Linked DNA regions of Homo sapiens: region 2 is linked to region 1. The links come from fine-mapping of genetic effects on gene expression. Tissue or cell type: whole blood. Region 1 holds a variant in brackets; the other region holds the start of a gene. All regions are shown on one strand. Distances are from middle to middle.

Region 1 (2,923 bases):
AAAGGTAGTGTTTTGATGAAGAAATAGGAGAATTACATGAAATTAACTTGTACCTTGGCCTTCACAGAAATGAAAAGAATACTGGCAGTTAATCTCTCTGCTTTTCCTTCTGTGGGTTTGAATGTTTTCTTTCTGCTACTCTCTACATGTGTATCCCATTCTCTTTTGGACAAACAAGCATTTTCAGTAAAACTAATCTCTGTATCTTAATAACATGCCGTAATCCCACAGACATAGTGCTCACTCAGTGCAGTATGATTCAGGCACTGTGTCTCAAATCTAAATTTTTGGGAGGGCGAATCCATCTGGACGAAGTCGGATCATCTGTCCAGCTGGTTCACTCAGCTGAGATCAGAGTGTTAGGGTTATGTTGAGCTTCCCACACAGAAGTGGACCATGCAGGTGTCAGCGAGGCACAGGGGAGGGGGGCATGGAGGAAATAATGGGGGTTTCTAGAACAAGATTTGAGCTTAAAGAGAAATAGCCATCTCTGAGGTGAGGATGCTAGAATTTGACAACTGATAGGATTGGAGGGATTCCCGTTTGGGAGACTTGGTGGCAAATCCACTTTGAATTTGTTGAATGAATGAACAAACATTTAGTTTGAAAAAGCCATTTTCTGTATTTACTGCTTTCAAACCCTATGAACATTGGATTCCTGGATTGAAATTAAATTAGTATGACTTTAACCCCACCACTATATGAGTGACCTTTAGCAACTCATTTCTCTTAGTTTCTGTTTCCTCATTTATACATGGGCATTAAAAATACCTGCCTTATCTTAAAGGATTGTTGTGATCAATGAAATAGTACAGATTAAAGTACTCCGAGGCTGGGCGTGGTGGCTCATGCCTTTAATTTCAGCACTTTGGGAGGCCAAGGTGGGTGGATCACCTGAGGTCAGGAGTTCAAGACCAGCCTGGCCAACATGGTGAAACACCATAGCTACTAAAAATACAAAGATTAGCCGGGCGTGGTGGTGCATGCCTGTAATCCCAGCTACTCAGGAGGCTGAGGTGGAAGAATTGGTTGAACCCAGGAGGAGGAGGTTGCAGTGAGCCGAGATTGCGCCACTGCACTTCAGCACTTTAGCCTGTGCAACACAGCAAGACTCTGTCTTAAAAAAAAACAAAAATATTTAAAAGGTACTCTGAAAACTGCAAAGTGTCACACAATGCAAAGTTGTTGTCGTTTTTTGTTTTGTTTTGAGACAGAGTCTCACTCTGTCACCCAGGCTGGAGTGCAGTGGCGCAATCTGGGCTCACTGCAGTCTCTGTTTCCCAAGTTCAAGCGATTCTCTTACCTCAGCCTCCCGAGTAGCTGAGATAACAGGCGCCCGCCACCATGCCTGACTCATTTTTATATCTTTAGTAGAGACGGGGTTTCACCATGTTGACCAGGCTGGTCTCGAACTCCTGACCTCAGGTGATCCACCTGCTTCGGCCTCCCAAAGTGCTGGGATTACAGGCGTGAGCCACCATGCATGGCCAAATGTAAAGTTTTATGTGAATAC[TA/T]GGTGATGTGTTATTCCTAAAATTCTCTCTGTACTCATACTTGTGTGTGCATGTGTTCTTATCTGTGGTGGTGAAGAGGAAAGGAGTAGAAGACGGTGTAAAGCTGCTAAATAATAGACATTTCACAAGACAAGGAAATGCTGTAATGTCCTGTGTACATTGTTTCCACTCTCACCTTCCTCTGAACATTTCTGGGCAGAGAAATTACTCCTACTCCAACTAACTCCTTTTTGCCCTTTGCAGGTGGCATGAGATGTTAAGGTCTTTTATATGGGACAAAAGAAGGAAAACAACTTGGCTGCAATAAAAACAGAGGTAAAAATTAATGTTTGTAGGCTATGAAGACTGTGAGAAATCATTTTGATAGGTGGGGGTGTAGATGCCATGTGCTTGTGAGTGTGTGTGTGTGTGTGTGTGTGTATGAGTATGTGAGAGAAAGAGGGAGAGAGAGAGAGAGAGAGAGAAAGAGAGTCTTGTAGTAGTGGTTTTTCTCCATTGGCCTGTGGAATCAGTTCAGTGTGGGATGTGTTGACTGTTTACTGTGGCTATTCCTAAGGGTTGAGGAACTGGAGGAATAGTTCTTAACAGAATTTAAGCTAATGATACTGCTTGTTGGATATTATTTCATTTTCAGAAAGGACTGGCTGAGGAGGGGTTGGGAAACTGACATTGGATGTCAGGTACTTATGTCAGCTTAGGCTCAAAGTAACATCATGAAGTACTCATGATCATCCCTGATTTCCAGATAAGGCAACTGAGCTTCAGAAAATTGAAATGGTTGTCCAAGTTCTGCAGAAAGTAAGTAGAGGACCTCATATTTAAGCCCAGGCTAGTTTGATTTGAAACTCCATGTTCTTCTTTCTTTTTTTTTTTTTCGATTATTAGAGACAGGGTCTTGCTGTGTTGCCCAGGATGGAGTGCAGTGGTGCTATCATAGCTCCCTGCAGCCTCAAACTCCTGGGCTCAAGTGATCCTCTTGCTGCTGTATGGAGGCTGAGAATCCCTAAAGTGCATTCTCCAAATTTTCCAAAATTCCTCAATTTTTATGGAAAATTCCCCAGATTTTCAGTTGAAATCATCTGAAAATTTAACATGAAAATACTCTCCAAAAAAAGATTTATCTTGAATGAAATACTATGTTTGACAATTTCATACTAAAGGGATATTTTAGGGACACCTAATCCACCCATAGTTAATTACTGGTAAAATCCACACAGATAAAATTATTATTTTCTACAAGGATTTTATTCCAGGAAGGGAGAACACATGAAGTCATGTTCCATGTAGGAGGAGGAAGGATGCACACTGGGCCTCATCTGTCACTTCTGGGCTCAGCATTCAGAATGGGCTCTTCATGTGGGTCTGGCTTTGACAGAGAGTTTGAGGAGGCTCTGTGGGCAGCATCTTAA
Region 2 (2,923 bases), 120 kb after region 1:
GACACAGATGGCCACATATTGTATTACTGCATTTATATGAAATGTTCACAATAGGCAAATCCATAAGGACAGAAAGTAGGTTAGTGGCTGCAGAAACAGGGGGAGATGGGAATGGGGAGTGACCACTAATTATTTTTGGGGGTGGCAAAAATGTTCTGGAATTAGATAGTGGTGATAGTTTCAGAATTTTGTAAATATATTTTTAAAAACACTGAATTGTATACTTTAAAAGAGTGAATCTTATGGTTTGGAAATTATATGTCAATTTAAAAATCCACTTTAGCTGGCTTAAGAAAAATTTTAAAAAGATATTGGTGACTCATTGAAACTCCGGTAGGACTAGAGAGTCAGGTTTGTAGGCCATGTGGCTAGGGACAAGCCCCAGGTTACCCTGTAGCGGTTTCTACTGCCACTGCCCTGAGCACATATCTGGCAGCTCGCAACCCCAAATACTGAGCATAGGATGCCACTAGGTCTCTTGTCCCTGCTGCCTCTGAAACGAGCTATGCTTCCAACATCCTGGATTTTACATGGTACCTCCTTATCTACACCTTCTTCTGGATGTAAGTCACTCACAGGAATATCTCATTCACAAAGCTCCAGCCACTTGCCTCTACCTTGGATGAAAGAAAGGCTGTGAAAGAGAATTTCTAGCTGTTTCTTTGGGGAGGCAGAATTTGGAGAAAAAGTCCTTAAGTTGATTTAAGTAAGAGGTTTTCTTTTTCTTTTTAAAGAAAGATCCTCCGTTTTTAAATTTTTTTCAACTTTTATTTTAGATTCAGGGTCTAAGATTCAGGGTGCATATACAGGTTCATTTCAAGGGTATATTGTGTGATGCTGAGGTTTGGGGTGTGATTGAACCTGTCACCTAGGTAGTGAGTATAGTACCCAATAGGTAGTGTTACTACCTTTGTCTCCCTCCCCACCTCCCCCATCTTAGCAAGAGGTTTTGAAAGATGCTGAGCCATCGAAGAACATGACAAATGTCCACTAGAGGCATCTTCCCACTTTAGGTTTGTATACATTCTTTCTCTTTTATTTTTTTTGAGATGGAGTTTTGCTCTCGTTGTCCAGGCTGGAGTGCAATAGGGCAATCTCAACTCACTGCCAGCTCCACCTCCTGAGTTCAAGCGATTCTCCTGCCTCAGCCTCCTGGGTAGCTGGGATTACAGCCGCCTGCCACCATGCCTGGCTGTGCAGATGGGGTTTCACCACGTTGGCCAGGCTGGTCTCAAACTCCTGACCTCAGGTGATCCGCCCACCTCGGCCTCCCAACGTGCTGGGATTACAGGTGTGAGCCACTGCACCTGGACGGGTTTGTATAATTGCTACTTTAATGGTACTTCACTATTTAGAATAATTGGTGGAAAGGATCATTTGAATTAATGAAAAGCTGAGTTATACCAAGAGAACTCTGGAGGATGAAAATGGAGAAAAGAACAAAGTGATGAACTAAGAGCTAATCCTTCTTTCACTTACTTATTAAATAAATAGCTATATATTTAAAAAGAACTATGGATATTGGGCAGAGTGCTAAGCACAGGAGATACAACAGTGAAGAAGATAGACAAGACCCTAGCTCTTGAGCCCTTTAGGCTACATGTATAGATGAGGAAACATAACGTGACAAGTAATCAGATATGAACAGGGATACAGAAGAGGGACAATGAGTAGAAAAAAAACCACCTTCCCCTTTTATTAACAAAAGGAGCTTTCATTCTGTGTCACATGGAGAACAAGCGTTCTTTTATGACCTATTGGAATATGCACTCCCCTCCTCCAGTTGCTGTCAACTTTATAAGGCAATAAATTAATTGTGGCAGAAGCTGGCTACCTCAGCCCAGTTACCTTTGCTCAGTGCTCCCTATGAATTGCTGAGGGAGAGATACAGCATAGAAAAAAACAAGGTGATGCGGTGAGTACGCTTCTCCATGCAAGCAGGGCTTTGAACAAGGGCAGGAAGGTCCCTTTCTTTTTGTGTGATTTTCTGTCTGCTGCTCTGTTAAGTGATCTGGATGCCCATGTTTTCCTTCTGGACTTAATATTTTCTTCCTTTTCCATAAAATATGAGGAGTGAGGATGAGATAGTTGATGGAGAGGAGAGACTGTGTGTGTGTGTGTGTGTGTGTGTGTGTGTGTGTGTGTGTGTGTGGTGTCAGTGTTTGGAGGACAGGTTGGGGGAGGTCTGGTGTGAGATCCTCCTCTCTCACTGGGAGAAATTAAGGACAGAGGAAACAGATGGGATCCTTCTGGAAACTATCTCAAGATGGCATGGATTTGGAGGAAGGTGAATTCCTCCCAGCTTTGGGCAGGAAGGGTTTCTAAGTAGGCAAGAATTTCTACCTTTAGGAATCCCCATCCTGTCCTCTGCCTGAATGACAATAGCTCCTAAGGCAGGAAAATACCCAGGGTTATTCCCAGAGCGTTCCTGTACTTCCTGAGCTAAGGTGCTGAACCTGCTCCCTCAGGAGGATTGAGGAGCTGTGGAGTAGGTCCCTGCTGCTGATTTTTAGAAGCTAGAAAGAAAAAAGTCTCCCTGTGGAGAGAAATAATACTTGCAGAAAGAGACCAATTGATGAATAATGCCTTTGCTGTGGTATTGAGTTGTGGGCTGTATGTATAAGAAACGAAGTTTGATACCATAGCACTCTTAGGGTAGGTCCTTCCTACTTCTTTCTCTACCTGAAATTCCACCATTGGAGACCGATCCTCTAAGTCTTTAAGCTCTGCAGCCTAGGATACATTGTCGAGAGAGTATTCAAGTACTATTTTAAAAAGTAGCGGCTCTCGGTGTTTGTCTCAGTTCCACCACTAACCGTGACTAGACAAAATTTCTTAATATTCATCTATAAAATGGAAATCATGATATCTGTCTGATCAGCTTCAATGCAGGGATTTTATGAGAATACAGTCATATGATATA

The links. PIP is the estimated chance that this variant, and not a neighbour inherited with it, causes the effect.
Region 2: it holds the start of MGAM2, and the variant in region 1 is fine-mapped to the expression of MGAM2 in whole blood (TOPMed, PIP above 0.99).

Annotation. Positions count from the first base shown.
Region 1 is chr7:141,987,176-141,990,098 of GRCh38, forward strand. It overlaps a transcript of MGAM not described here. Among named protein-coding and RNA genes, the nearest start is that of MGAM, 7.2 kb to the right of the region's middle. The variant TA/T (reference allele first, on the strand shown) is at 1,514.
Region 2 is chr7:142,109,893-142,112,815 of GRCh38, forward strand. MGAM2 (maltase-glucoamylase 2 (putative)) reads left to right here and starts at 1,826. Exons shown (of 48, transcript NM_001293626.2): 1 at 1,826-1,915.